4 linked regions of the Homo sapiens genome follow. The protein of the gene in region 1 interacts with the protein of each later gene in a pairwise test. Each region holds a gene or a part of one and is shown in the gene's direction. Other genes may lie near its edges.

Region 1 (7,721 bases):
TTTGTTGTTGCTGTTTTGAGACAGAATTTCTGTCGCCCAGGCTGGATCTCAGATCACTGCAACCCCTGCCTCCCGGGTTCAAGCGGTTCTTCTGCCTCAGCCTCCCGAGTAGCTGGGATTGCAGGCACGTGCCACCACACCAGGCTGATTTTTGTATTTTTAATGGAGACAGGGTTTCACCATGTTGGCCAGGCTAGTCTCGAACTCCTGACCTCAAGTGATCCACCTGCCTCGGCCTCCCAAAGTGCTGGGACTACAGACGTGAGCCACCTTTTCTTTTTTTTTTTTTTTGAGACAGAGTCTTACTCTGTCTCTCAGGCTGGAGTGCAGTGGTGTGATCTGGGCTCACTGGAACCTCTGCTTCCCGGGTTCAAGCAGTTCTCCTGCCTCAGCCTCCTGAGTAGCTGGGATTACAGGCGCCGCCACCATGGTCGGGTAATTTTTTTTTTTTTTTTTTTTTGAGACGGAGTCTCATACTGTCACTAGGGCTGGAGTGCAGTGGCACAATCTCGGCTCACTGCAACCTCTGACTTCTGGGTTCAAGCGATTCTCCTGCCTCAGCCTCGCAAGTAGCTGGTATTACAGGCACCCGCCACTACGCCCAGCTAACTTTTTGTATTTTTAGTAGAGACGGGGTTTCACCATGTTGACCAGGATGGTCTCAAACTCCTGACCTAGTGATTTGCCCACCTCGGCCTCCCAAAGTGCTGGGATTACAGGCATGAGCCACCGCACCTGGGCAATTTTTGTATTTTTAGTAGAGACGAGGTTTCATCATGTTACCCAGGCTGGTCTCGATCTCCTGAGCTCAAGTGATCCACATGCCTCAGCCTCTCTAAGTGCTGGGATGACAGGCGTGAGCCACCACACCCAGCCTGGGGTGATAGTGTTTTCGATCTGATACCTCTTTCATTTCCTGAAGGCAGTTGGCGTCCCTGCACCCGCCGTCATTCCTCTGATTTTTTCCGTAGCAACAGCATCACCTGGGGGCCTCCTACCTCCTGCGACCTGGGGCTGGGCACTGTCAGGAGCTGGTGCTCACCGAGGATGAGAAGAAGCTGCTGGCTAAAGAAGGCATCACCCTGCCCACTCAGCTGCCCCTCACTAAGGTGAGTCTGGGGGGACTTCCAGCCCTGGATCCATCTCCCCTTCGTGCACTTACCTGCATGTGTGTCCCACCTTTATTTATTTATTTAGAGTAGAGTCTTTCTCTGTCACTGAGGCTGGGATGCAGTGGCACGATCTCAGCTTGCTGCAACCTCTGCCTCTCAGATTCCAGCGATTCTCCCGCCTCAGCCTCCTGAGTAGCTGGGATTACAGCCATGCGCCACCACGCCCAGCTAATTTTTGTATCTTTAGTAGAGACAGGGTTTCACCATGTTGGCCAGGCTGGTCTCGAGCTCCTGACCTCATGTGATCCTCCTGCCTCGGTCTCCCAAAGTGCTGGGATTCCAGGCGTGAGCCACCGCACTGGCTATGTGTCTCACCTTTAGAACACCCGTACTAGAATGCTATGCTGTGTCTGTCACCAGAGCCAAAACAATCAGTCAGAAGCCCCATTGTAAATTCAACTCAGAGGGTAATTATCAACATCCAGGAATGAATGGCGGACTCCAGGTGGCAGCAATTTGGGTGCAGCAAACTTTTTTTTTTTTTTGGAGATAGGGTCTTGCTGTGTCCCGCTGGAGTGCAGTGGTGCCATCATAGCTCACTTCAGCCTTGACCTCCTGGGCTCAAGAGATCCTCCCGCCTCAGCCTCTCAAGTAGCTAGGATGACAGGTGCACGCCACTACACTTGGCTAATTTAATTTTTTTTTTTTTTTTGTAGAAATGGGGTCTTGTTATGTTGCCCAGGCTGGGCTGGGACTCCTGGGTTCAAGTGATTCTCCCACCTTGGCCTCCCAAAGTGTTGGGATTACAGGCATGAGCCATCATGCCTGGCCCTGCAGACATGTTTTGATTGGACTGTACTGCATTTTATACATTTTTGAATTGCTTGATAATGTTTTTCTGACCGGTAGATTTTACAAGAGAACTCAGTGACTTGAGGCTGGGCACGGTGGCTCACACCTGTAATCCCAGCACTGTGGGAGGCTGAGGCAGAGGATCACTTGAGGTCAGGAGTTCGAGACTAGCCTGGCCAACATGGTGAAACCCCGTCTCTACTAAAATTACAAAAATTAGCTGTGCCTGGTGGTGGGCAACTGTAAGGTGCTTCTCAGCCTCCCAGCTTCTCAGGAGGCTGAGGCAGGAGGATCTCCCTTGAACCCGGGAGGTGGAGGTTGCAGTGAGCCGAGATGGTACCACTGCACTCCAGCCTGGGTGACAAGAGCGAAACTCTGTCAAAACAAAAACAAAAACAAAAAAACTAAAAACATAAACAAAACAAAATCCAAAAAACCAACTCAATTACTTGAATGTCCTCTGTTTCATATTCTCAAACCTCCATATGCACCAGTCAATGGCTGGGTAGCTGTTTGGGTTCTCTAGCTAACCACAGTCCCCACCCAGCCTGCTGCACTCAGTATCAATGCCTGAGTTTGATATTCTCATCTGTTTTTTTTTTTTTTCTATTGAGACAGGTTCTGACTCTGTTGCCCAGGCTGGAGTGGAGTGAGGTGATCTTGGCTCACTCCAACTTCCCCCTCTGGAGTACAAGTGATTCTCCCACATCAGCCTCCCTAGCAGCTGGGACTACAGGTGTATGCCATTATGCCTAGCTAATTTTTTTTTTTTTCCTGAGACGGAGTTTCGCTTTTGTTGCCCAGGCTGGAGTGCAGTGGCGCGATCTCGGCTCACTGCAACCTCCGCTTCCCAGGTTCAAGTGATTCTCCTGCCTCAGCCTCCTAAGTAGCTGGGATTACAGGCACGCGCCACCACGCCTGGCTAATTTTTTTTTTTTTTTTTTTTTTTGAGTAGAGACAGAGTTTCACCATGTTGGCCAGGATGGTCTCGATCTCTTGACCTTGTGATCTGCCCAGCTCAGCCTCCCAAAGTGTTGGGATTACAGGTGTGAGCCACTGCGCCCAGCATTTTTTTTTTTCCTTAGAGACAGGGTCTTGCTATGTTGCCCAGGCTGGTCTCAAACTCCTGGCCTCAAGCAGTCCTCTGACCTTGGCCTCCCAAAGTGTTAAGATTACAGGTGTGAGCCACCGTGCCTGGCCCCATCTGTTTCTATTGTTGTTGTTGTTTGTTTTGAGATAGGATCTCACTTTGTCGCTCAGGCTGGAGTGCAGTGGTACAATCTGCAGGTAGCAGCTAACTGCAACCTTGAACTCCTGGTCTCAAGGGATCCTCCTGCCTCAGCCTCCCAAGTAGCTGGGACTATAGGCATGCACCACCACACCCAGCTGATTTTGTGGTTGTTGTTTTGTTTTAGTAGAGACAGGGTCTTTACTAAATGTTGCCCAGTCTAGTCTTGAACTCCTGGACTTATGCGATCCTCTTGCCTTGGCCTCCCAAAGTGCTGGGATTACAGCACTGTGAACCACCGCGCCCAGCCTGACATTCCCATTTGAAGACACTTATTGGCCGGGTGTGGTGTCTCATGCCTGTAATCCCAGCTCTTTGGGAGGCAAAGATGGGCGGATCACCTGAGGTCAGGAGTTTGAGACCAGCCTGGCCAACATGGTGAAACCCTGTCTCTACTAAAAATACAAAAATTAGCCAGGCATGGTGTTGTGCACCTGTAATCCCAGCTACTTGGGAAGCTGGGGTGGGAGAATCACTTGAACCCTGGGGGTGGAGGTTGCAGTGAGCTGAGATCTTGCCACTGCACTCCAGCCTGGGTGACAAGAGCGAAACAAGAAAGAAAGAAAGAAAGAGAGAGAGAGAGAGAGAGAGAAAAGGAAGGAAAGAAAAGAAAGAAAGAAAGAAAGGAAAAGAAAGAAAAGAAAGAAAGAAAGGAAAGAAAGAAAGGAAGAAAAGAAGGAAAGAAAGGAAGAAAAGGAAAGAAAGAGAGAAAGAGAAAGAGAAAGAGAGAAAGAGAGAAAGGGAGAAAGGAAGGAAGGGAGGGAGGGAGGGAGGGAGGGGAAAAGAAAGGAAAGAAAAGAAAGAAACGTAAGAAAGAAGAAAAAAATTATTAATTAGTCTTAAAACACTTGCTGTCGCCAGGGAAAGGTGATGTTTCCAGGGATGGCCACAAGGTGGTGGAGTGGTACCCATGCCCAAAGTCTGGTGGGCAGTTGCCCATTTTACAGTATTGGGAGCTGGGAAAAGACCCTCAGAACCCAGGCACCTCCCAGAGACTCTGTGAGGGTTTGGGCAAAGGGTAGCTTCAAGTCATTAGGAATCTGCCTCTGGGTCCTTGGCTCCGGGATGTCTTGTATGCAAAGAGGATGGGGTGAAGTTGTGGGGTCGAGGTTAGGTGAAGTGGGGTCAGGACAGTGGGGACTGTCGCACCATCCCCAAAGTGAAGACTTTAATTTTTTAATTTTAATTATTTTATTTATTTATTTATTTATTTATTTATCTATTTATTTATTGAGATGGAGTTTCGCTCTTGTTGCCCAGGCTGGATTGCAATGGCACGATCTTGGCTCACTGCAACCTCCGCCTCCCGGGTTCATGCCATTCTCCTGCCTCAGCCTCCCGAGTAGCTGGGATTACAGGCACCCGCCACCATGCCTGGCTAATTTTTGTATTTTTAGTAGAGACGGTGTTTCACCATGTTGGCCAGGCTGGTCTCGAACTCCTGACCTCAGGTGATACGCCTGCCTCGGCCTCCCAAAGTGCTGGGATTACAGGCGAGAGCTACTGCCCCCGGACTCCAAGTGGGGACTTTCTGGCCTGAAACCCTCCTCCCCATTTCACTTGGCAGTACGAGGAGCGAGTGCTGAAAAAAATCCGCCGGAAAATCCGGAACAAGCAGTCGGCGCAAGAAAGCAGGAAGAAGAAGAAGGAATATATCGATGGCCTGGAGACTCGGTGGGTAGTGCTGGACCCAGACTCTACACTCGTGGAGGAAACTGAGGCCCAGAGAGAAGGAGATGTGGCTAAGGCCACACAGCTTAGAGTCTGACAAAATTGGAGGTGATTCTCCTCTCTGGGAGAGATCATGCTTCTTACTGATTGCAGGGATGGAAAGATGCCTAGTGATGGTGTAGGACAAGGGTTTGGGGGACCCTTTGCCCCCTAGAAGGTGTGCGGAAAAAGGACAAAGTGTGACCCATCCTATTCTGACCCTCTGCCTGAAGATAGACACTTCCTTTTTGTGTGTGTGGAAGGGTCTCCTTCTATCACCCAGGCTGGAGTGCAGTGGTGCGATCTTGGCTCACTGCAACCTCCACCTCCCGGGTTCAAGCGATTCTCCTGCCTCAGCCTCTCCAGAAGCTGGGATTACAGGTGCATGGCCACCACGCCCAGCTAATTTCTTTGTATTTTTGGTAGAGATGGGGTTTCACTGTGTTGCCCAGGCTAGTCTCAAACTCCTGACCTCAGGTGATCTGGCCGCCTCAGCCTCCCAAAGTGCTGGGATTACAGGCGTGAGCCACTGCGCCTGGTCTCTCCCCTTTCTTAAATGCAATCTGCTAAGCTCCTGATCATCTTTATCCAGGGTCATTCCCCCCACCACCCTATGTCCTGGGTAATTGTATCCCATTTTACAGACACAAAAGCTGAGATCAGAGAGTGGAGTGGCCCAAGGTCATGGGGAGAGGGAGAGATGAAACTTGAATCTCGGCCGGGCGCCGTGGCTCACACTTGTAATCCCAGCACTTTGGGAGGCTGAGGCAGGCGGATCACGAGTTCAGGAGATCGAGACCACGGTGAAACTCTGTCTTTACAAAAAATCCAAAAAAATTAACTGGGCTTGGTGGCGGGTGCCTGTAGTCCCAGCTACTCGGGAGGCTGAGGCAGGAGAATGGCGTGAACCCAGAAGGCAGAGCTTGCAGTGAGTCGAGATTGTGCCACTGCATTCCAGCCTGGGCGACAGAGCGAGACTCCATCTCAAAAAACAAACAAACAAAAAAAGAAACTTGAGTCTCCCAGGATGCCTGGTTGTCCTGATATTTCATCTTCTGGAAACATCACTGCCTGAATCTAGGAGGCTCAGCTTTTTTTTTTTTTTTTTTTTTTTTGACACAGAGTTTCATTCTTGTTGCCCAGGCTGGAGTGCAATGGTGCGATCTTGACTCACTGCAACCTCCACTTCCCGGGTTCAATCGATTCTCCTGCCTTAGCCTCCCAAGTTCCCAAGTAGCTGGAATTATAGGCGCCCACCACCACACCTGGCTAATTTTGCATTTTTAGTACAGGCAGGGTTTCACCATGTTGGCCAGGCTGGTCTTGAACTCCTGACCTCAGGTGATCCGCCCACCACGGCCTCCCAAAGTGCTGGGATTACAGGTGTGAACCACCACACCCATCCAGGGGGCTCAGCTTTGAATGAAGCCCCCTCCATATTAATGCAGAAATGGGACCTAGGAACCAGGCAGATGTGGGTTCAAATCCCAGCCCTGTCTGACCTGCCGAGTAACCTTGGATGAATGACTTCCCCTCTCTGGCCTTGGGTTCTCTTGGCTTGTAACGTGAGGCCTCTGGGGGAGATGTCAGTGGGGCCAGCTGGTGACTGGCATATGCTGAATGTCGATGCGTCTTCCTCCTTTCAGGATGTCAGCTTGCACTGCTCAGAATCAGGAGTTACAGAGGAAAGTCTTGCATCTCGAGAAGCAAAACCTGTGAGTCTGGGTCCAGCTGGGGCAGAGGACAGGGGAAGCAGCCCCAGAGTCCCTTTGCAGGAAGAGCAGAGAGCCCATGTGATGGCAGAATGACATAGGGAATAAGAGTTTTACCTATGGGCCGCGTGCAGTGGCTCACGCCTGTAATCTCAGCACTTTGGGAGGCCGAGGCGGGTGGATCACCTGAGGTCAGGAGTTCAAAACCAGCCTGGCCAACATGGTGAAACCCCGTCTCTACTAAAAATACAAAAAAATTAGCCAGGCGTGGTGGCGGGCACCTGCAGTCCCAGCTACTCGAGAGGCTGAGGCAGGAGAATTGCTTGAACTCGGGAGGCGGAGGTTGCCGTGAGCCGAGATCGCACCACTGCACTCCAGCCTGGGTGACAGAGCAAGGCTCTGTCTCAAAAATAAATAAATAAGGCCTGGTGTGGTGGCTCACGCCTGTAATCCCAGCACTTTGGGAGGCTGAGGTGGGCGGATCACAAGGTCGGGAGATCAAGACCATCCTGGCTAACACGGTGAAACCCCGTCTCTACTAAAAATACAAAAAAAATTAGCTGGGTGTGGTGGTGGGCGCCTGTAGTCCCAGCTACTCGGGAGGCTGAGGCAGGAGAATGGTGTGAACCTGGGAGGCGGAGCTTGCAGTGAGCTGCCATCCCACCACTCACTCCAGCCTGGGCGATGGAGCAAGACTCTGTCTCAAAATAAATAAATAAATAAATAAACAAATAAATAAATAAATAAAATAAATAATAAAGAGCCAGAGGCCCTTGAAGAATGGATGGAATTTGGACTTTAGCGGGGCTGGGGGACCCCGGAAATGGACGAGAAGCAGAACCGAGGCCCTTTAGGGCTCAGCGGAGGCCTGCCTGTCTCTCTAAGGTCCCTCTTGGAGCAACTGAAGAAACTCCAGGCCATTGTGGTGCAGTCCACCAGCAAGTCAGCCCAGACAGGCACCTGTGTCGCAGTGAGTCCTGGTGCCCCCAGGCAAGCCGGGGACCTAGGCTTCTGTAGAGGGGCCCATAGGGAGGTGACAATGAGTCC
Region 2 (7,721 bases), on another chromosome or scaffold:
GCAACAGAGAAGAGGTCGGCTGGCTAACTAGGGGCAAGGACTTAGACTTTTTTTTGTGAGGAATCCTTTGGAGGGCAGGATTGCTATTCTGGAGGGAGTACTTCAGAGAGTACTTGGCTGCAATATAATTGGTGTGAATAAGGAACAAGTTCTAGGAAGAGCCTTTAGCTGAGAAACATGCACCTTGAATTTTCCAATATACTTCTACCATAAGTTTGCTCTGTAACCATGAGAAAATTAGTTAATCTAGTTACATATTAGTTTTTATCTCTGTAAGATTAAGGACATTTTCTAGATAAGTAATTTGTTGTTTTTGTTTTGTTTTGAGATCTGTTTTTCAACTCTGTCAACAGGCTGGAGTGTAGTGGTGTGATGATAGCTCACTTGCAGTCTTGAACTCCTAGACTCAAGGGATCCTCTTTCCTCAGCCTCCTGAGCAGCTGGGACTACATGGATGCACCACTCAGCTAATTTTAAAATTTTTTCGTACAGGCAGTGTCTCACTATGTTGCCCAGGTTGGTCTGGACACCACACCTGGCCCTAGATCAGTAATTTGTATCAAAATCACTTAGGGTTGGATGTGGTGGCTCATACCTGTAATTCCAGCACTTTGGGAGGCCTAGGCCAGAGGATGACTTGAGGCCAGGAGTTAGAGACCAGCAGGAGCAACAAAGCAAGACCCTGTTTCTACAGGAAAAAAAAAAAAAAAAGCTGGACGTGGTGGCATGTGCCTGTAGTCCCAGCTACTTAGAAGGCTGAGCGAGGCCCAGTCTCTTCCTCTCTCTCTTTTTTTTTTTTTTTTTTTTTTGAGAAGGAATTTTGCCTTGTCGCCCAGACTGGGGTGCAATGGTGCAATCTCGGCTCACTGCAACCTCCTCTTCCTGGGTTCAAGCGATTCTCCTGCCTTAGCCTCTCGAGTAGCTGGGATTACAGGTGCCCGTCACCACGCCCGGCTAATTTTTGTATTTTTTTTTAGTAGAGATGGGGTTTCACCATGTCAGGCTGGCTTTGAACTCCTGACCTGAGGTGATCTGCCCTCCTCAGCCTCCCAAAGTGCTGGGATTACAGGTATGAGTCACCACACCTGGCCTCTCTCTCTCCTTTTTTGGAAACATGGTCTCACTCTGTCACCAAGGCTGGAGTACAATGGTTCTATCTCATCTCACTGCAACATCTGACCTCCTGGGCTCAAGCAACCCTCCTGCCTCAGGCTCCTCAGTAGCTGGGATTATAGGCATGTGCCACCACATCTGGCTAATTTCTGTTTTGTTAGTAGAGATGGGGTTTTACCATGTTGCCCAGGCTGGTCTCGAACTTCTGGGCTCAAGTGATCCGTCTGCTTTATCTTCTCAAAGTGCTGGGATTACAGGTGTCAGCCACTGCACTCAGCTCCTCTTAAAAAAAATTTGGGAGTGCTATTTATTTATTTATTTATTTATTTATTTTTGAGATGGGAATTTCGCTCTTGTTGCCCAGGCTGTAGTGCAGTGGCACGATCTTAGCTCACTGCAACCTCCGCCTCCCGGGTTCCAGTGATTCTCCTGCCTCAGCCTCCCAAGTAGCTGGGATTACAGACATGCGCCACCATGCCTGGCTAATTTTGTATTTTGAGTGGAGACGGGGTTTCTCCATATTGGTCAGGCTGGTCTCAAACTCCCGACCTCAGGTGCTCTGCCCGCCTCAGCCTTCCAAAGTGCTGGGATTGCAAGCGTGAGCCACCGTACCCAGCCGGGAGTGTTTTTTTCAACAATCCCAGTGGGACCCGAGTAAGCAGTTTGTGTTTGTTTGTTTGTTTGTTTGTTTGTTTGTTTTTGAGACAGTCTCTCTTTGTTGCCAGGCTGGAGTGCAGTGACGTGATCTGGGTTCACTGCAGCCTCCACCTCTGGGTTTAAGTGATTCTCCTGCCTCAGCCTCCCAAGTAGCTGGGAATACAGGCGGTGCCAGGACACCCAGCTAATTTTTGTATTTTTAGTAGAGACGGGGTTTCACTGTGTTCGCCAGGATGGTCTCTGTCTCTTGACCTCGTGATCTGCTTGCCTCGGCCTCCCAAAATGCTGGGATTACAGGTGTGAGCCACTGCACCTGGCCAAGTAACTGTATTTATTTATTTGTTTGTTTGTTTGTTTATTTATTTATTTATTTATTTTGAGACGGAGTCTCGCTCTGTCACCCAGGCTGGAGTGCAGTGGTGGGATCTTGGCTCACGGCAGCCTCCACCTCCCAGGTTCAAGTGATTCTCCGGCCTCAGCCTGCTGAGTAGCTGGGACTACAGGTGCATGCCACCACACCTGGCTAAATTTTTGTATTTTTAGTAGAGATGGGGTTTCACCATGTTAGCCAGGTTGGTCTCAATCTCTTGACCTCGTGATCCGCCTGCCTCAGCTTTCCAAAGTGCTGGGATTACAGGCGTGAGCCACTGCACCCGGCCGAGTAACTGTATTTTTAAATATTTTTACTGATGGCTGGACATGCTGGCTGGCACCTGTAATCCCAGCACTTTGGGAGGCTGAGGTGGGAGGATTGCGTGAGCCTAGGAGTTCAAGACCAGCCTGGGCAATATAGCAAGACCCTATCTCTACAAAAAGTTAAAAATTAGCTAGGTGTGGTGGTGTGCCCTGTAGTCCCAGCTACTTGGGAGGCTGAAGTTGGAGGATCACTTGAGCCCAGGATGTCGAGGCCGCAGTAAGTTATGATCATGCTACTATATTCCAACCTGGGAGACAGAGTGAGACCCTGTCTCAAAAACAGAAAAGTTATAAAGAAGTGTTTTTCAGCTCATGGTAAAGCTGCTCTTCTGTATGATCTCCAAGAGCTTTGCAATCATCCTTATTGATTTCCTGATTTGAGGAATAGAATGGCAATACTAGATACCATTTATTTAGTGCTTACTATGTACCAGGTAGTTGACTGAAGTACTTTTCAGCCTTTTTGTTATTTAACCTTAGCAACAATAGGAGATGTGTGGATTGTCTTCATTTTATAGAAGAGAAAGTAGAGATTTAGAATGTTTTAAGTAACTCGCCCCAAATCCACCAGCTAGTAGTAAGTGGTGAGTCAAGATTTGAACTCAGGTCTACCTGCTCTTCAAATCTGGACTCTAAACGACTACCACTCATAAATCTAGATCATCTGATGGATGCCACCAGCACTAGAGATAGGTTAGTGGACACCTCAGGAAGAGTGAAAGCTGGAACTGGGGAAGGGAGAACTAAAGTTGTCACCTCCTGCCATTGCTTTTCAGAATGGAATCCAGACAAATAAGCCAGCTTTGCGTGCTGTCCGACAACGCAGTGAATTCACCCTCATGGCCAAGTGAGTTGAGAGAAGCTTTCTGGTGGGGTGATACAGTGTCTGAAGAAAAGTAGACTTGCAATCAGTGGCCTTGGCTGTGAAGTCTGGGATTGGTTATGCTGGAGCTTATGTGGGAAAAGGCGTCCTGCCCTTTCCCACAGTCTGACTAGTGGTCATTTGCAGGCGCATTGGGAAAGACCTTAGCAACACATTTGCCAAGCTGGAGAAGCTGACAATCTGTGAGTGTTCTTGGGGTCTTTCAGAAGTGGGGCAGTAAATCAAAGAGGGTTGAGGACTATATTCCCTGAGCTTTGTCCTTGACCTCACCCATTGTGGCTTCTTGTTTGTCTCTGTAGTGGCAAAGCGCAAGTCCCTCTTTGATGATAAAGCAGTGGAAATTGAAGAGCTAACATATATCATCAAACAGGTGAGCTACTAGCCATCAGGAGAGCCCAGCATTCCAATCAGATCACTTCTGTCTTCCTGTCATTTTCCATTGCCATGGGGACCCAGAGCAAGTTTCTTTTTTTAGAGAGGGGGGTCTCACTGTGTTGACCAGTCTGGAGTGTAGTGGTGTGACCTAGCTCACTGCAGCCCTTAACTCCTGGCCTCAAGCTTTCCTCCAGCCTGAGCCTCCTGAGTGGTAGAGACTACAGGGACATGCCCTCATTCCTGGATAATTTTTTTTTTTTTTTTTTTTTTGAGGCAGAGTTTTGCTCTTTCACCCAGGCCGGAGTGCAGTGGTGCGATCTTGGCTCACTGCAACCTCCACCTCCCAGGTGCAAGCGATTCTCCTGCCTCAGCCTCCCCAGTAGCTGGGACTATAGGCACCCGCTACCAATGACTGGCTAATTGTTTTATCTTTAGTAGAGACGGGGTATGCCAGGCTGGTCTCGAACTCCTGACCTCAAGTGAGCCGCCCACCTTGGCCTCCCAAAGTGCTGGGATTACAGGTGTGAGCCACTGCACTCGACTGTAATAATAACTTTTATTTTATTTATTTATTTATTTATTATTATTTTTTGAGACAGAGTTTCACTCTTGTTGCTCAGGCTGGAGCACAGTGGCGCGATCTCAGCTCACTGCAACCTCTGTCTCCTGGGTTCAAGTGACTCCCCTGCCTCAGCCTCCCGAATAGCTGGGATTACAGGCACGTGCCACCGCGCCCGGCTAATTTTGTATTTTTAGTAGAGACAGGGTTTCTCCACGTTGGTCAGGCTGGTCTCAAACTCCTGACCTCAGGTGATCCGCCCACCTCAGCCTCCCAAAGTGATGGGATTACAGGCGTGAGCCACCGCGCCAGGCCAATAATAACTTTTTTTTTTTTTAAGACGGAGTCTCACTCTGTCGCCAGGCTGGAGTGCAGTGGCGCGATCTAGGCTCACTGCAACCTCCACCTCCCAGGTTCAAAACGATTCTTTTGCCTCAGCATCCCAAGTAGCTGGGATTATAGGCGCGCGCCACCACACCCAGCTAATTTTTGGTATTTTTAGTAGAGATGGCATTTCACCATGTTGGCCAGGATGGTCTCAATCTCTTGACCTCATGATCTGCCTGCCTTGGCCTCTCAAAGTGGTGGGTTTACAGACATTAGCCATTGAGGAATTGTGTGTATGAAAATAGTTCTGTTGATGCCTCTCGAAACTACAGTGCCTTTGACTCTTCCCTTTTCCTGAGTACTGTCCGGGGGCTTTGTTGGTCATGCCCTAGACCCGAGATTTTGGCCTTTGAAAGGGTTCTGTGGCCAAGAGCATGGCCTCACAGAATGGAGCAGGGCAGTAGGCTGGAGGAGTAAACAAGTTATTTACAATGGATGAAGGCCTATTTTGCCTCTTTGTAGCTCTTCTCTGCAGGGACTGAGCCAGAGCAAACACTAGACCTTGGAAAATCCTAGCAGGCCCATCTGGTCTGACTGTCTGAGATACTCTCACTCTGGCTAGTAACTTCCACCTTGTCCTTCCTACCAGAGATGGCCATCGTGAGAGATGCTGACTAAGGACTCCTTGGCTAATACTTTGTTTTTCCTTGGACTCTTTTACCAGGACATCAATAGCCTCAACAAACAAATTGCTCAGCTCCAGGATTTCGTGAGAGCCAAGGGCAGCCAGAGTGGCCGGCACCTGCAGACCCACTCCAACACCATTGTGGTCTCCTTGCAGGTGGGACCTGGGGAGGAAGGGAGGGAGGCAAAGAGGAAGAATGTGGAGCCTTCTTTGGTTGACCCTCTCTCCTTTTCTTCTAGTCGAAACTGGCTTCTATGTCCAATGACTTCAAATCGGTTTTAGAAGTGAGGACAGAGGTGAGAACAATCTGCGTAGGAGGGGTAGGAATATGGGAGTAAAGATCCAAGAGGGAAATGAAGAAGGGACAAGTTCTACAGGGTCATGGGGCCAATGGTGGGAGTCTCTTTAACATGCCTGCTTTCTAGTGGCTTCAGGTCCTTTGCGTTTTTCCCCAACCCCAGAACCTGAAGCAGCAGAGGAGCCGGAGAGAGCAGTTCTCCCGGGCACCTGTGTCAGCCCTGCCCCTTGCCCCTAACCACCTGGGTAAGTCACAGGTAAAACGGGGAGCCCTGGGAGGTAAGGTTACTTACTCTGGTTGTGATGGCATCCTCTAAAGGCACGGGTTGGGTAGGAGAGTGGAAGGTCAAGGAATTTTCTAGGCTTTATCTCTCAGAGGCCAAACCAGATGGTTGAGATTCGTGATCCACATTTAGACTCCCACATTCTCACTGTTGGGGTGAATTCAGTTATATTCAGAATAATGATAATTTCTAATTTTTTTTCGTACACTTTATTCACATTCTCTCATTTAATTTTCACAACCACCCTTTGAGAAAGCAACTATTATTATCCCCCATTTTACAGGTGAGGAAACTGAGGCTCAGAGAGGTTAAATGACCTGTCCAGGGTCACAAGGCTAGTAAGTGCTAGAGCTGGGATTCAAACCCAGAGCATGTGGGCTTTGAACCTGCTTTTAACTGTTAAGGTGTGCCACATCCTGTTTTCTCCCCCAGGCGGTGGTGCTGTGGTTCTGGGGGCAGAGTCCCATGCCTCCAAGGATGTCGCCATCGACATGATGGACTCTCGGACCAGCCAGCAGCTGCAGCTCATTGACGAGCAGGTACCCAGGCTCTGAACTAGGTAGAATCAGCTTCTCCATTATCCTCTGTGGTTCCCGAGAGAGTGTTTGGAGTGTGCCATGGGCAGAATGGCAAGCTGGGAGGGTTGTAAAAATGCAGGTCTGACCCTGAAGAAGCTGTTGGTGCTCATGTGCTCTCTCCCTCTCCTGAAGGATTCCTACATCCAGAGTCGGGCAGACACCATGCAGAACATTGAGTCGACAATTGTTGAGTTGGGCTCCATCTTTCAGCAGTTGGCACACATGGTTAAGGAACAGGAGGAAACCATTCAGAGGTGAGATACACTCTCTCGCCCCAAACAGAGGAGCTTTCTCTTCCCCGTGGATTGGCATCTTAAAGTCCCCAGGGACTGCTTGATGCCTTTTGGAAGATAGAGTGAATTCTGCCCACCCATGGGACCCAGTTCACCTGCTTCCATCCACCCAACAAGTTTTTATTGAGCACCTGTTCATGTGAGGCACTGTTCCAGGTGCGGGAGATACAGTGGCAAGTAGAACAGTAAAGTCTGTCTGGAGCTGCTTTGTAGCATGTGTAAGTGTATGGAATTTGATAGGGCAGATGAGGACAGCTGTGGAAAAGAACTGACAAGGCTGGCACAGTGACTCACACCTGTAATCCCATAGGCAGCACTTTGGGAGGCCGAGCAATGCAGATCGCTTGAGTTCAGGAATTCAAGACCAGTTTGGGCAACAAAGCAAGACCCTGTCTCTACAAAAAAATACAAAAACTAGCTGGGCATGGTGGCATGGGCCTGTAGTCCCAGCTACTCGAGAGGCTGAGGTGGGAGGATGGCTTGAGCCTGGGAGGCAGAGGTTGCAGTGAGCCAAGATCGTGCCACTGCACTCCAGCCTGGGTGACAGAGCCAGATTCTGTGTCAAAAAAATAAAAATAAAAAATTGACCAACAAAATTTCAGGGAGTAATAAAGGCTGTATACAGAGTTAAAATAGGATGATGTGTTAAGAAAGTAATGGATGGGTACGGTGGCTTACACCTGTAATTCCAGCACTTTGGGAGGCCCACACAGTCAGTTGAACTCAGGAGTTCAAGACCAGCCTGGGCAACATGGTGAAACCCCATCTCTACAAAAATAAAAAAATTAGCTGGACATGGTTGCGTGTGCCTGTGGTTCCAGCTACTCGGGAGGCTGAGGCGGGAGGATGACTTAAGCATGGGAGGTTGAGGCTGCAGTGAGCCATGATGGAACCACTGCGCTCCAGTCTGAGTGACAGAGCAAGACCCCATCTCAAAAAAAAAAAAGAAAGTGACTAAGTAGGTATATCAGATT
Region 3 (7,721 bases), on another chromosome or scaffold:
TGTATTCCAGCCTTAAAGTATAATAAAAAAAAATTAGGACTGGAAGGGGGCCTAATGGTCATGGTATATGTTTAGCCCTTATATTTTATTCTTGAGGACACAGGCTCCCAGAACAAGAGAGGTTCAAGTTCATAGTTGATCTGGGCTGAGCTGGGTGGCTGTACTCCCCTACTCTACCCTTTCCTCACTTTAAGACAGATTCCAGCAGCGCTGTCAGTTCCTCAAAGCATCCTTTCTGGATTCAATTTGAAGCATGTGGCTCTCTTGCTGACTAATGGCCCATGGTGGTTTTTGGAAAAATATTGCTTACTCTCTTAGTTCCTCTCACCTCACAGTTGAATGGATAATGCATTTTGCAAGACTTTTTTTTTTTCTTTTGATGCTTCACAAAATGTATTTTTATTGGCTCTCTCAACCAAGGGTTCTTAACCTAGGGTCCACAGATGGAGTTCGGGACATTCTTGAACTTAGATGGGGGAAAAACATGTCTTGATTTTCATGATATTCAAACTGCAGTTTAGCATTTTCATTCACTTATGAGTGTAGGCAACAAAAAGACTTGCTGCTAGATTTTGTTATTTAATGCATTATTACAGAAGTGCACATGTGTATAGCAATTTAAGACTTTTGATATTTAAGTATAAGTGATTCCAATTGTAATCCTTTGTATTTTATTTTGTATGTTTAAAAACATTAGTCTGAGAAGGGCTCATTACATGTCATCAAACTGCCAAAGGGATTCTTGGCACAAAAAGAGGGTAAGAACCTCTACAAATGAAAATTTATAAATATGACTAAATATGACTGAAAAATGAAGTATTTTAGTAGAAATTGATAAGCTCTACAAAAGGAGGTAGATACCTGCCTCATTTCCTTTGGATGATTCAGTGTTTTGTTAGGTAAGACAAAGAGGGGTATAGTAGCTTGTAGAGTTTATGGTCTTTTTTTTTTTTTTAAAAGCAGGTCCCACTTTCTGTATGCTTTTTGTTGTTGCTGTAACCTCAGCACTTTGCCTTGACTACTCCACCCTTTGGTGGCAATAAGAAACCTTCAAATATACCCTAACACTTTTCCTTTTCTCATCCTCCACTCTAATTTGGGCCCAAAGACATCAAACATTAGTATCTTTTATAGACTAAAAGGTCTTTGAACTTTAAAAAAATTTATAAAACAAAATCTTTACTGTAGCTCAGCATGTGGGGTGATCTGAAGAGCTCAGATCTGTTTGTGTGGATGGAGTGTCTAATTCTGTGGGCTATTAAGGGTTACGGTGTTACTGGCTTTGAGTTGCTATATTTTCCTTTACTAACTTTAGCCTTGTTTGGAATATGTGGCTGTCTGTGTTGCTGTGTGGTTTCTGGTCTGGCTTTCTCAGATTTATTTATTTCTCTCTTTAACACACCAAGACTGAAAGCTTCATTAGGTCTTTTCATTTCTGGTTGTGTTTCATCCTGTGATCAATATTTGGGGATGCTGTGTATAAATGAAAGTAAAACAGGCTTGATTCAGGTTCAGTAATTTTACCAAACATTTTATCGAAAAGATAAAATACTTATGCACAAAGGACCAAAACAAAACAAAATAGCCGTTGCTATATTTGAGGAAGACCAATATTGTCACATTGGAGCACTGGTTTTATATCTGCTGTGCAGGGCTTGCAGTGTGGCCTTCCTGAAAGTAGGTATATGGGGTTGTAGGTTGGCTTTTGAATGGAGACAACAGCAACTTGGTAGACCTCATTGGTATGGGAGAAAAATAACTGTGAAAAGGAATTTATAATGTCTTTTGATTTAATTAAACGTTTCTCCTGGGGTGTGCAGAAATCTATTTTATAAAAAGAAAAGTAAAGGTTAGAATAATTCAGTTATTAGTTCTTACTGAGCTTATTGTCACCTTCATCTTCTGGAAAATAAAATAATAAGAGCAGAAAGTGCTTCATATTTCTTAGCTTTGTCTAAATCACCTGTTCTCAACCACTGTCTCAAGTACCTCATATGTGATGATCAGTCTTGAGGGTATGTGGCCAGTAATTTATGACAAGTAATAAAGTGTGGATCTTTCAAATGATTCAGATATGTCATGTTAATAATGTCATTTTTCACCCTTTTGCATTCTGATGTGTTTTCTCAAGTGGGAGAGAAAGGGGTGGAGTTACATCAGGCAAGCCAGGAATGTATGCATTCAGCAAATATTTATTGGCTGTCTACTCTTCCAGGCATGAGGAATACAGCTAGGACAAGGCAGACACATTCCTTTTCCTGGTGAACTGCTCTCTTATTTTTGTCCCAGCCTCTTTGTGAATAACCGTTACTGATACATGGTTCATTTATTTATTCCCCAAATATTTGAGCATCTGCCACTTGTCAGATGCTGTGGATTGCACTAAGGGATACGCAGATGAACAAGACAGTCATGGTCCCTGCTGCTGCAGCACTGACAGCCTAGCTGGAAGACCTGAAGGCTGGGATGGTGGATGTGTTAGCAGGGTCCCCTAGCCATGTGCCAGGATGAGATGGGGATGACCACGATGGAGATAAGAGGGAAGGAGTGCTTTCCGAAGAAGGTTTGGAGTATTCTGCAACCTAGAGATGAAAACGTGCAGCTACTTTGAGGAACAGAGAAACACTCTTTATGGCTAGGAAAGAATGATTGAATGAAACATTGTGAGGGATGATGATGGGGGGATATCATGAAGGGCTTATAAGATATTGGAAGGGGTTTGGACTTTACCCTAAGAGCACAGGAGACTGTCTCAGGGTTTTGCTAGTATGAGATGGGAGTGAAGAAAGCCCTCTGCTCTTTGCAGAGTGGAGTTGGAAGGCACAGTGGAGTTGGAAGGAGAAACTGAGGCTGCAGCCCAACAAGGCAGAGAGAGAATGGAGTGTGAGCTAGAGGGCAGCTGTCTTGCTTCTAGTTCCTGGTTCGGGTACCTCCTGAGACCTAGTTTCGTGTGATTGACCATTCATTCAGTGACTCAAGATACTGACTGAGGACCAGCACTGCTCCCAGCCCTGGGCTACACCAGCAAACAAGACAGACAGCTGCCCTTCCTGCCTGCTTGGAGCTTACCTTTTTTTGAGAGAGGTGAGCAAGCAAAGGAGTAGATAAAAAATGGAACTTCAGAGACTGCTGGGAGGAAACTAAAGCAGGATAAGGAGGAAGAGAGTTATTGGGTGGGCAGGGGGGGGGTGAATTGGCAGGGTGAAATGCTAGGGATAAGGTAGTGGGGGATCCTTTTGGACAAAATAATCAGGAAAAGCTTTTCCGAGAAAATAGTCCTGTGTCCTTTGAGAGTCCCCACTTCTTTCGGTTTTTACTTACTTTTTTTTCTGTTTAAGCCACCTTGAGTGGGTTCTGCTCTTTCAATCAGAAGATTCCAAGTATCCCGTTAAGAGGCAACGTATATAAGCAATTTACTGAAGGGAAAAATAGAAGTGTAAACAAATACAAGGGCAGATAGTTAAGTATCCCTGGACAAAAACGTGGTTCTGCCCTCTGTGCTGCTTGCCATGTGCCCAGAGTGGCCATTGAATTCCACCAGAGCGTATTGCCCCTTGAGGGTAGGAACCTTGACTTCCCCCCTCCTTGGAATGCTGGGCTTCCCTTTCTGGTGCATGTTAGGTACTCACTGAGCCTCTTGGAGAAATGGATTTCTGTGGCACACCCTAGTTTGCCACCCCACATGGAGATGTGGCCAGGGCTTAGTGAATGTTTCTGGACTTGGAAGGAGCACTCTGCTTCTGTAGCACAACTGCAGTTTTGTAAACAATCCTACCAACCTTTAGGGCCCAAGTCAAAGTTTCCCTGAGAAACTAAACATGTGCTTTACTGACATCAGATATTCCAGTTTCAACTTTTGTTTGTTTTTCTTTTTGTCAGTCACCTAGCAGTCATGTTGTCACCTGCAGAAAGTCCTGCCTTGAAGGGAAGCAGGCCATCTGTTCTGATTCCACCAGCTGCTCGGAGCTGCATTGCAGTGCGCCACAGTGGCGTTGAAAGGCTGTGGTCATTAATGCCTATTAATGATGGCTGGAAATACTGTGGCATACAAGCCTCTTGGATGACAGACCTAATAAATATGCATCAGGGGGCATTTTCAGCAGCAGGTTTAAGGCTATTGCGAGTCATTCTCGATTGAGGTTTTCTTTCTAGCCATCCGCATAATGCTTCTCACTCTCAAACACTTCACTCTGCTTATCCCTGCTTTTCTGCTCATGCAGAATCTGTTTTTAGGATAAGAAATCATTGTTTCAAGCTTTGTACTTCCATTCTTATTAGTACTGGTTTAACAGAATTTAACCAGAGCGAGCAGTTGTGTGTTTGGCTTCTAGGCTATTGGTATAAAACGGCTGATCGTGATTACCAAGTGCCTCGGAGGACCTCGGTGGCCCCCCTCCTTTCCCATCTTGTGCTTCCTGCTCCATGATTATAGAACACTAATTATAATCAGAACTGGTGATGGGTGAGCAATTAGGCTTTTCTGGACTGATGATTGATTGATGGATTGATTGATTGATTGCGTTGGGGAAAGGCCCTTCCTGCGGAAGGATTGTAGACACAAAGGAGTGTGCTTTCACACCAGATCCCAGAAAATTATGCTGACTAGATCCTTGATGTAGTACATAAGATTACATTATGGTTTGGGTACTTTCATCACATGCTGTGGATAGAATTCAAAATGCAACCTGACAAGACTGATAGGAAATAAATTCATTAAGTTTTTATTGAGTTGTTTTTTGTCTCCTCGGGTTGTTGATCATTCTAGTGAGCACAATTTCAGCCTTTTTGATGAGTTATTCCAAACATTAAGTACTGTACGGTTTGAAAATCTTAGCTAACAAAAGCATTTTTGGAGTGGCTTTATAATTTATAAGTCATCTGCAAGTCTTTTTGCATTTGTTAATCTCCAATATTATCTGAAATTTGTTGAGAGCGTGGCAGTTGAAGAATAGCCTAGCTTACTGAGAACCATGCTTCTGGCAGACTGGAACATAAGCAGCTTTCACCCAGGAGAGCTAATGCATGACACAGATTTTCAAGCTTTTAAAGGTCACCTGACATGAAATAACAGAACTAACAGAGATTCGAGTAGGTGGGGTAATCTATACAAGCATCCTGCAGGTACAGGATGGTGGAAGGACCAGAAGAATGTTTTAACACTGCATTTGGGTGGTTAAAGGACAGGATGAAGAGCTCATTTATATTGGTTGTACCTGTCTGTGACTGTCGGCAGTAAGAAGGTAGTACAGTTCCTGAAATACTTTATGTCTCCTCCACACCATGGAGAACAGTTCTGTGTTGGTGAGAAGCAAGCCAAGGCAGAAGATGGCTCTTGTGTGGTGCAGTTTACAAAAGAGAGACAAAATTTGATAGCAGCCACTGCTGCCAGCCACCTGCACAGCACTCAGGGTTGGGAGAGCTACAGGCCTAGAATCCACTGGTTACTGCCTCCAGATTGAACACTTTGCCATAGAAAGAAAATGAAAACATTCCTCTAGTAGCTAAAGTGAACGTAACTTCTGAAATTTCCCCAGATTCTGTTTGGGGAATTTTAGCATTTTTCATTTCTAATGAGAGGGACTAAAAGATGTGAAATCAAAACTTTTGCATTCAAAATTGATCAACTGAGTGTAAAAGAAATTTAAATAATTGAACTTCCAGATGATGTTAAGTCTGTTGCTTTTATAATTTTGTTGTTTTTAAAGCTTAAAATTACACTAAGAATTTTGAGATGCATGTGTGTATGTATATATTTTATTGCATGTGTGTTCTGCATGGGTATATTAAAAATGGGATTCATTGATCCTGCACATGGACCCCTGAACTTTAAGATGAAGAAAAAAAAATGGGATTGCCTGTACATACTAGGAATTAAGCACTATCTAAACATACACACTAAACACTGATCATTCAGTTTGTGTTAGGTGATGCTGTTGTTGCTGTTTTACGAGGCTGATTTCACTTCAGAGGACTAGGGGTGGTGGAGCCTACATAAGGAAATGCCCCCCAGGGGTACACAGTCTAAGGGCAAGACAGATGACTTAGCAACAAATCATTAATTAGGGTGTAGCGGGATGGTGGGCGAGAGCTCTGGGCATACTATATGCCAGGTTCCGTTAGGTGGTTTACATTATCCTTTCCAGGAGTTCAAATTTATTATCTGGGCAATGAGGCTCCAGCTTAATGACTTGTCCAAGCTCACTCCCCTAGTTAGTGGGAATCTGATTAGAAGGTAGGTCCTTGTGGCTCTCTTGCTTGATTATTTCCACCAGGGTGAAGGTGAGAGGCATGTGTATTGCTGGGAGATTGGGAAAGATTTCCTGGGGCAGTTGGCCTTTAGCAGAGCCTTGAGAGGTGACCTGGGTTTTTTATAGAGCAGTGGTAGTAAAAGCATGGCGATTTTGGAACCTTGAGGGGTATGGCTGGAGGCTGAAGTACTTGGGGAGGGAGGTGAAGTTGGAAAGTCAGGTTGGGGTATTGTTGGGGTATTGAAATATTTGGGCTAGGGTTATAGTAGGTAATCTCAGAGTGGTCCCTGCCTTCATGGAGCTTACAGTCCATCAAGAAGGAAGCCCTTTAAGCAAACCTGGCAAGGTGCTGCCAAGGAGAAGTACAGGGTTTCGTGTACAGTAGGGGACAAAATTTGTTTTTGGGGGAGGGCAGGTTTTTGTGGGGAGGGAGGGAATTCTATGTCAGCAGAGGTAGAAAGGGTGAGTTAGCTAAGGGTTAGCAAGGGGAAAGCAGAGTACCTGAAGGCACATCGAGAGGTTGAGGGGCTGAGAGGCTGAGGGATATCCAGTGCCTTTGGAATTGAAGGGGTGAGAGGGCCTTTGTGATGAGAGAGACTTGAAAGGAAGGACCTGGGCCCAGTAAAGGCTGTGGCCTCTGGGAGGGGGAAGCCCTGCTAATAACATTTCAAGGCATTATTGCAGACTCTAGGTAGCAGGCAGTGTCAGCCTTCTGAGTAGGTTAGTGAACTAATCCTTAGGACCCAGTCTTGCTTGAAATCTCCAAATAGGCTTGTTTTCCCTTTTGTAATTCATTTCCCTCCTACCTTTGTCTCTCTTCCCCTGCCAAAGAACAGTTGCTCACAATGGGCGTAGCCCCCTTCTGTGCGATGGCAAGGGTGAGGTGAGATAACGTGATCCATTTAATTATTTGGGCACTCAGTGGTTTGATTTTGAAACTTGTGCTGGAACCAGTGAATGTTTTGGGGTTAAACTCCACTGGCAGAGCAGTTAGTGATCCAAGAACTCTTTCCTGTTACCCATTCAGACAACTGTGCCTCTGGAGCCTTGCTTTCCCTGGAGGCCCAAGGGATGGGGTCCTGAGTGCTTTGTCCCCCAAGAAACGAGGAGAAGGACCCATAGCCCTGTGCTCTTTCCTGCATGGGAGGATGCACAGTGTGCCCACCAGCTAGGGGATCGCCCTCAGGAGGCAGAATGGGCTGCTTTTCCTCCAGGCTGTTGTTTCAAGCAGGGATGGACTTGTCCCTCTGCCTTGGGGTCTTGGCTGTCTCTTGCTGAGCTATGGCAGCAATAGTGTGGAGCAGGTGAGGACTGGCATTTAGCCCCCAGACCAGCCCCTCTGAGGGTGTAATTGATCCCATTGCTGGAGAAAAGAGCAGAGCAGATTTCTGGCCTTGCAGTGTTTGCTGCAGGTGGTGGTCTTGGATCACTGAGGGGCTGCCCTGCTTGGCCTGGTCGTGTTCCCATCTCAAC
Region 4 (7,721 bases), on another chromosome or scaffold:
AGTCTCCCAAAGTCCTGGGATTATAGGCGTGAGCCACCGCGCCTGGCTGCTTGTTTTACTTTCTTAAACTTTACTGTTTTTCTTTTTTCTTTTTTCTTTTTTTGTTTAATTCTTCTCAGCTCATACCAATTAACTTTACTGTTTTTCATGGACATTAGGGGTATTTCTTGCTGTTCCTTTGGCTTAGAGGTAAAGGTGGTGTTTTCTCCCTAGTCCATGGTGTGACATTTCTCTGCATTTTTCCATAGGAGGAAGAGCTGCGCAAAGGTGGAGACCCCAAATATGCCCACTTGAATATGGATCTGCATGTCTTCATTGAAGTCTTTGGACCCCCATGTGAGGCTTATGCTCTTATGGCCCATGCCATGGAGGAAGTCAAGAAATTTCTAGTACCGGTAAGGAAATCCATATCCTGTGTCTTCTGAGCAAAAGAGAACTGGGATCTTATACTGTTGTGAAGGTAGGGGTTCTTAACTAAGGTCTCTGCATAACCTGTATGTATACCAAATTCTGCACTTATGTTCATTTTCCTTAGGTAGTTCGTTACTTGCACCTAGTTCTCAAAGCATTATGCTCCAAGGCCACTCTATCCCTCCTTGTCTAATGTGGTTTTCATTGTGTACCGGTATCTTGTCAGTATCTCGGGTCCACAGTGTGCCTGCATTCTGATATTTGGTTAACTAAGGTTTAACAGGGTCTTCACCTAGCTGAGTATTTTGGTAGTAGTGTGGAACAAGGAGATTGTGTTAGGAAAGTGACTAAGGTGGGTCTCTGCACTCAAGAAGTTCATGCTGTAGAGAGTAGAGACTAGCAGCAAGAAGCTTATAGCATCTAGTGTTATTGGGTTAAATTCTGACCTGAGCACACTCAGGGATTTCTTTCCTGGAGGAGTTTGCTGAGGACGAGTTTAGTTTGGAAGAGGTTGACTATTGATGTTTAACAGATAGGTGAGCAGCTTTTTTCAGACTATTACTGAGGACTAGATAGAGATGGGACAGGCCAGTTTATCTATCTTGCTTGTTACCACCTTTGAATACTTGGTTGGAATATTACTTTGAATAAATAGGAAATGGTACTATTTTTGCCTTTTAGCAAGGCCTGGTGGTTGTCAGAGTTAACATACTACTGTTGAATATTTAATAACAAGGATGAATCTGGAGACTTATGAAGGATTTGGAATATTATTAAGTAGAATTGAGTAAGCGTCATGTGTTCATCAGAAAACTAGGAGGAGGTAAGATACAGTCCTTGGTTTTCTTGAATGTTAAATGAGGGAATTAGAACTAAATGTGGTGTCAGATGATGTGAAAATTGATAGGGCAAAAATTTATAGGCAGTGTGGGCCAGGCACGGTGGCTCACGCCTGTAATCCCAGCAATTTGGGAGGCCGAGGAGGGCAGATCACCTGAGGTCGGGAGTTCGAGACCAGCCTGACCAACATGGAGAAACCCTGTCTATTAAAAATACAAAATTAGCCGGGCGTGGTGGCACATGCCTGTAATCCCAGCTACTAGGGAGGCTGAGGCGGGAGAATCACTTGAACCCAGGAGGCAGAGGTTGCGGTAAGCTGAGATTGCACCATTGGACTCCAGCCTGGGCAACAAGAGTGAAACTCCATCTCCAAAAAAAATAAATAAATAAGTTTTTAGGCATTGTGTACCCATAATGCTGAACTCCAAGGATTCCAACAGTCTCAAATGTCTTAGCAGCTGCTTTGCTTTCAAGTACCTCATCTTCATTAGAATGTTCAACATGAGGCAGGGCGCGGTGGCTCACACCTGTAATCCCAGCATTTTGGAAGGCCGAGGCGGGTGGATCACGAGGTCAGGAGATCAAGGCCATCCTGGCTAACATGGTGAAACCCCGTCTCTACTAAAAATTCAAAAAAAAAATTAGCTGGGCGTGGTGGCAGGCGCCTGTAGTCCCAGCTAATCGGGAGGCTGGGGCAGGAGAATGGTATGAACCCGGGAGGCGGAGCTTGCAGTGAGCCGAGATTGCGCCACTGCACTCTGGCCTGGGTGACAGAGTGAGGCTCTGTCTCAAAAAAAAAAAAAAAAGAATGTTCAACATGAAACAGACCATTTAACATATCCTAGAGAAAAACACAGCTGGTTAATAATCTTAAGGAAATTCTTTTTACTCTTTTTGGGGTGTTCTATTGATCACCCAAGCCATTCAATTTCCAAAGGACTGCAGAGGGAATGCCCATCTCCTCTCTTCATTGTTAGTCTCCCTCATATTCCTCAGAAGGGTTAGGTTTATGAGGCTTGCTTGTAAGTGAATCTTTTGAAAAAGATGCTTGCCGGGGAGATGTGGGTTTCCTCAGTGTTGATGTGGCAGTTGGAGGAGTCTGAGCAATGGTCTGGCATTGGTTACTTGATTCTCCAAGGTGTGAGTCTCAAGCAGCGGTAATGTGTAAGGTAGGAGGAGCTAGAGAGTTGAGGGGGGCATCAAAGACTAGCATCATCTATTGAAGCTGTATACGCCTGGGATATATAAAAATGCATGAAGTATTAAGACTGAATGGCTCTCAATAGGAAGTGTGAAAAGATTTGCCAGTGGCATTTGATTTTTCCCTCTTGTGGAGGAAAGAAAAGTGAGGCTATTTTTGCATCTGTGACCAGAGCCCTCCATTTTCCACTTAGAACAATTAACTATACCAGCAATGCTTCACAGTGCCGTAGGAAGAGCACTGGACTATGTATGTCTGTCTATCTGTGTCTTCCTGAACAGGTTATCATTTCACTTTTCTGAGCTTCAGGTTTCTTGTTCGTCCCAAACATTTCTTAAGTATCTGTCAGATGTCTGATACTATGCTTGGGTGTAAAGTTACAAAAATGGCTCCTAAAGAGCTTACAGTTTAGTGACAGACAATTCTAAAATTATGTGGTAAGTGCTTGGGTATAGGGAATTATGTGGTACTTTGAGAAAAGAGGAGTTGTAGGGGTGGCATCAAGAGAAAGTTTTTCAAGAGACACTTATTTAGGCAAGTCTTGTAAGGATGAATTAAGAATCCCTCAGGTGGACAAAAAAGACAGTATAAGGACAAAAAAGCCTGTTGATCCAACACCTAGATTTTGAGACAGGTAATTCTGAATTCACATCTAGAGTCTGCCATTTATTAGCTCTGTGTTCTTAAGCTGGTTGATGTATACTCCTTGAGTCTGTTTTCTTAACTGTAAAATGTGGAGATCTGCCTACTTATTTCAGGGTCATTTTGAAGATTTTTTTTTTTTTTTTTTTTTTTTTTGAGATGGAGTCTCTCTCTTTCGCCCAGGCCGGACTGCAGTGGCGCTATCTTGGCTCACTGCAAGCTCCGCCTCCCGGGTTCTCGCCATTCTCCTGCCTCAGCCTTCCGAGTAGCTGGGACTACAGGTGCCTGCCGCGCCCGGCTAATTTTTTTGTATTTTTAGTAGAGATAGCGTTTCACCGTGTTAGCCAGGGTGGTCTCGATCTCCTGACCTCGTGATCTGCCCGCCTCGGCCTCCCAAAGTGCTGGGATTACAGGCGTGAGCCACTGCACCCGGCCCTCATTTTGAAGATTAAACTGAAAAATCTATATAAAGCTTATTATATAGAGCCAAGTGCATACAGCTCCATTAATGGTAGTGGCTTTTATTATTCCAGGAAAAGGAAACTATTTGCAAAGAATGGATATGTAAGAGTATGCCAGGCTCTGAACTACAAGTTGTTCAGTCTGGCTTGTGAGTAGGTTATATATAGAGAGAGAATGGAAGTGATCCGGAGAGCTAGGCAGAGACCACATTATGAATAATGAGGGGTCTACCATCAAGACTTTTCTCAAAGAGGTGACAGATAGGGTGCCATTTGACTTCAGAGAAGGAATGACCTGAGACCTCATCTGGGCTCTCAAGAGCTCTTCTTAGAATTCAAGTCTCCCGTGGACCAGATGATTTCTCAGTAGAAAGTGTAGATACCACACAATACTCCTTGTATCTTTCGTTCCCAGGATATGATGGATGATATCTGTCAGGAGCAATTTCTAGAGCTGTCCTACTTGAATGGAGTACCTGAACCCTCTCGTGGACGTGGGGTGCCAGTGAGAGGCCGGGGAGCTGCACCTCCTCCACCACCTGTTCCCAGGTAAAAATAATGGAGACACCCAGAAATAGGATGTGAATTTGACTACTAGTGTCATCTCTTTTAGTGGTGCTCTTATGTCTAGCTTAGGAAGGGTCTCAGGATTTGTATGTTGCATAAAGAACAGAATTCTACAACCATACTCTCACACCTGTAATCCCAGCACTTTAGGAGGCTAAGGCAGGCGGATCAACTGACATTTGGAGTTTGAGACCAGCCTGGCCAACATGGTGAAACCCTGTCTCTACTAAAAATACAAAAATTATCCAGGTGTGGTGGCATACACCACACTACTCAGGAGGCTGGGGCAAGAGAATTGCTTGAACCCAGGAGACGGAAGTTGCAGTGAGCCGAGATCATGCCACTGCACTTCAGCCTGGGAGATAGAGCAAGACTCCATTTCAAAAAAAAAAAAAAATAGAGTTCTAGATCTTGGGCACTTTGACCATAGCCAAGTGCTGCAGTCTAGCTGAAACTTTTGGTCTTCTAATTTTGGACAGTCTTAGCATTTGTTAATGGTCTGACTTTAAAATTCTACCTTTTGTGACTGACCTTTATAGAGTATTCAGACTCTCCAGACCTACCCAAGGCAGTGCAGTGATGAATTGGTCCTCTATAGGACCTGGGGGATCTTGCAGTGTGGGTCCTTTACCCTGTACATTCCTCTGTGCTTTAATAATAGCCTAGTTAAGGCTTCATAAAATCTGCCTAATTCCAGAATTTGTAAACAAATCAGAACATAAAAGTGGCCTGTTTATAAAAAGCTCCATTTAAGATAAACTTTCATTTTGTAGGGGCCGTGGTGTTGGACCACCTCGGGGGGCTTTGGTACGTGGTACACCAGTAAGGGGAGCCATCACCAGAGGTGCCACTGTGACTCGAGGCGTGCCACCCCCACCTACTGTGAGGGGTGCTCCAGCACCAAGAGCACGGACAGCGGGCATCCAGAGGATACCTTTGCCTCCACCTCCTGCACCAGAAACATATGAAGAATATGTAAGAAATTTGAACAATGTGCCATTTCCCAGTACCTAGAAGGCTGCTAAAGGAAGTTGAATGACAGGGCCTCGGTCCTTTATGTAGGTGTCATGGACTGCCTGTAAGATTTGCAATCTGCCCTCTTCTCTTGCAGTGAATGTTGAACTATTAGAAGATTTTTCCATTTTAGGCAGGGTTTTACTATACGCCTGTAGATTAAACAAGAAATAAAATGTACTTTAATGTAGTATTTTATAATGAATTTCTTACTACTAGTACTGATAATACTAAAGCTCGATTTTGTACTTTACTTCCTGCCCACACTTCTTCTGTGGCATATCATATTTGTTTGGGTTTTCTTTGTTTAGTAACCCTTTCTCTTTTGACTATTCTACAGTAGGCATTAACATTTTGGAGGGAAATGTCATGTCCTTTTAATTCAGAAGCCTACTTACTCCCATGGGATGTAATTACCTTTCCTACTCTCTATGATTTTGATCTTTTATTTCATTTTTTTGTTGTTGTTGTTCTAGGGATATGATGATACATACGCAGAACAAAGTTACGAAGGCTACGAAGGCTATTACAGCCAGAGTCAAGGGTGAGTCAGGCAGTATAAGCACTGTTTTTTGTCCTGAGGATGGATGGAGGGAGTTGGAGGAACAGAGAGATTTAGACAGTACAACCCTAAGGAGCAGAATGGTTCGCCTTTTGAGGGTATCTCCTCTGCAACCCCCACAGTCCTGACTGGTCTTGAACTCTTGAGCTCAAGCAGTCCTCCCACTTTAGCTCTCTCTAGTAGCTGGGGTTACAGGTGCGTGCCACCATGCAATGCTTTCCTCTGCGTTTGACATCTGTGAAGCACACACTTGGATTTGTAAATCTGGATAACTGTGAACCTTAAATTATAATTTAGAACCTGAGAGTAACAAATGAAAAATTTCCAAGCTGTGACTACATGGAAACAAGGAGAAATGCCTTTATGTTATTTTGATTTATTATTTTAAAATATCAAAACCACATTAAAGCTCCATAAAATTTTACAAGAAACTTGAATTCCATTACCATAACTTAGGTTCTTTTCTGCATTTCTCTTTAAGACCATTTCCTTGTGTGTCCATATATATAGCTTACCTGTGAATTGATTGAAAAAGAGTTCCAGAATTCTACAGCAGTGATAAAACAGTTCTTTTTTCCTTCTGGTGAGCCCTATGAATACATGTATATATATGCTATATTAAAAGGGTCAATTTAGGATTGTGCTTTTTCACTTTATATTCTGTGGTATCCATTTTTCTTTGCAATAGTTGTCAATTATTTTATAAGTACATAGTCTATACATATTTTGGAAATACTTTACGGTTTAGGGATGGGGCAGAATGAGTATTTTCCTGTATTAATACACTTAGTAAAATGACTGACTTATGGAAGTATTTGAGAGAAAGTTGAAACATAGTTACTCTGTAGCTTCCTAACACTCTGCCTTTGGCTTTCAGGGACTCAGAATATTATGACTATGGACATGGGGAGGTTCAAGATTCTTATGAAGCTTATGGTATGTCTTTATCTCTGTGGTGGGGCAGAATGTACAAGTAAGTGCCTGGGAGAATGCTGGTGACTAAAGTATTGAGAGTCAGACAAACACACCTACGGATAAACCTTTAGAAGGCCAAGATTTTGCTAGATGTGACAGTAAGAGTTCTGCTCTTGCTTAAATTTTGCGGTACATGGTAGAAAGAGGGACTGCTAAAGTGAGGTGGGGTATCGTTACTCTTGGAAGGGTAGTGTTTGTCTTAAACAAGGGCTCAAGACCAGCTTGGCCCTGGTTGGAGCAGCAGACTTATAAGCTAATGTTATTTTTTTTCTACTTTAGGCAGGGAAATAGCTAGACCTGGGTTGTATTTCTGGGCCTTTGCTGCCGATATCTAGGCCACTTTGGTAGATAACAAGAACTTAATCGTACACAACTGTACTCATCTACCCCATTTCATTAAAAAAAAAATTTAGATCTCATTGAAAAGAATGTCATTGTAAAGGAAATGTCAGCTGAAAGGGACCTAGATGGCAAGCAGCTAGCCAGACCAGGTTGCGGGGCAAGAATAGTGCCTATTAGGGCCGGGCGTGGTGGCTCATGCCTGTAATCCCAACACTTTGCGAGGCCGAGGCAGGCGGATCACCTGTGGTCAGGAGTTCGAGACCAGCCTGGCCAAGATGGTGAAACCCTGTCTCTACTAAAAATACAAAAAAATTAGCCAGGTGTGGTGGTGGGCGCCTTTAATCTCAGCTACTTGGGAGGCTGAGGCATGAGAATCACTTGAACCTGGGAGGCGGAGGTTGCAACGAGCTGAGACCGTGCCATTGCACTCCAGCCTGGGCAACAAAAGTCCGTCTCAAAAAAAAAAAATAGTGCCTATTAGAATCAGATTAGAGGCTGTAGGGGCTAGAGCCAATAATTCAGGACAGTACTGGCACCAAGCTCCTTGTTGGCTTGAAGACATCAACACAGTCCTTGATCCCAAGAGAGCTATGGAGGCTGCAACAGCAGCAGGACAAGGCTGCCTTCCCTGAGGTTTGGTTAAAAACACATCGCTCAAGTGTGTCCTCAAGAGCCAGTTATGGCCCTGTGTTAATAGGCCTCACTG

The links.
Region 2: the proteins of CREB3L3 (region 1) and STX5 interact in binary tests that used the Homo sapiens proteins (3 or more experiments, as listed by UniProt).
Region 3: the proteins of CREB3L3 (region 1) and PELI2 interact in a two-hybrid assay, tested with the Homo sapiens proteins (one large-scale study listed by BioGRID and IntAct).
Region 4: the proteins of CREB3L3 (region 1) and KHDRBS1 interact in a two-hybrid assay, tested with the Homo sapiens proteins (one large-scale study listed by BioGRID and IntAct).

Annotation. Positions count from the first base shown.
Region 1 is NC_000019.10:4,163,532-4,171,252, forward strand, and holds part of CREB3L3 (cyclic AMP-responsive element-binding protein 3-like protein 3), read left to right. Parts: intron 1-971; coding exon 972-1,109; intron 1,110-4,819; coding exon 4,820-4,926; intron 4,927-6,608; coding exon 6,609-6,677; intron 6,678-7,559; coding exon 7,560-7,644; intron 7,645-7,721. UniProt on the Homo sapiens protein: Transcription factor that may act during endoplasmic reticulum stress by activating unfolded protein response target genes. Activated in response to cAMP stimulation. In vitro, binds to the cAMP response element (CRE) and box-B element.
Region 2 is NC_000011.10:62,823,153-62,830,873, reverse strand, and holds part of STX5 (syntaxin-5), read left to right. Parts: intron 1-3,242; coding exon 3,243-3,313; intron 3,314-3,475; coding exon 3,476-3,531; intron 3,532-3,648; coding exon 3,649-3,719; intron 3,720-5,334; coding exon 5,335-5,451; intron 5,452-5,534; coding exon 5,535-5,591; intron 5,592-5,756; coding exon 5,757-5,838; intron 5,839-6,308; coding exon 6,309-6,415; intron 6,416-6,586; coding exon 6,587-6,708; intron 6,709-7,721. UniProt on the Homo sapiens protein: Mediates endoplasmic reticulum to Golgi transport.
Region 3 is NC_000014.9:56,122,237-56,129,957, forward strand, and holds part of PELI2 (E3 ubiquitin-protein ligase pellino homolog 2), read left to right. Parts: intron 1-7,721. UniProt on the Homo sapiens protein: E3 ubiquitin ligase catalyzing the covalent attachment of ubiquitin moieties onto substrate proteins. Involved in the TLR and IL-1 signaling pathways via interaction with the complex containing IRAK kinases and TRAF6.
Region 4 is NC_000001.11:32,032,940-32,040,660, forward strand, and holds part of KHDRBS1 (KH domain-containing, RNA-binding, signal transduction-associated protein 1), read left to right. Parts: intron 1-248; coding exon 249-395; intron 396-3,970; coding exon 3,971-4,104; intron 4,105-4,895; coding exon 4,896-5,097; exon of another isoform or gene 5,098-5,180; intron 5,181-5,612; coding exon 5,613-5,680; intron 5,681-6,575; coding exon 6,576-6,634; intron 6,635-7,721. UniProt on the Homo sapiens protein: Recruited and tyrosine phosphorylated by several receptor systems, for example the T-cell, leptin and insulin receptors. Once phosphorylated, functions as an adapter protein in signal transduction cascades by binding to SH2 and SH3 domain-containing proteins.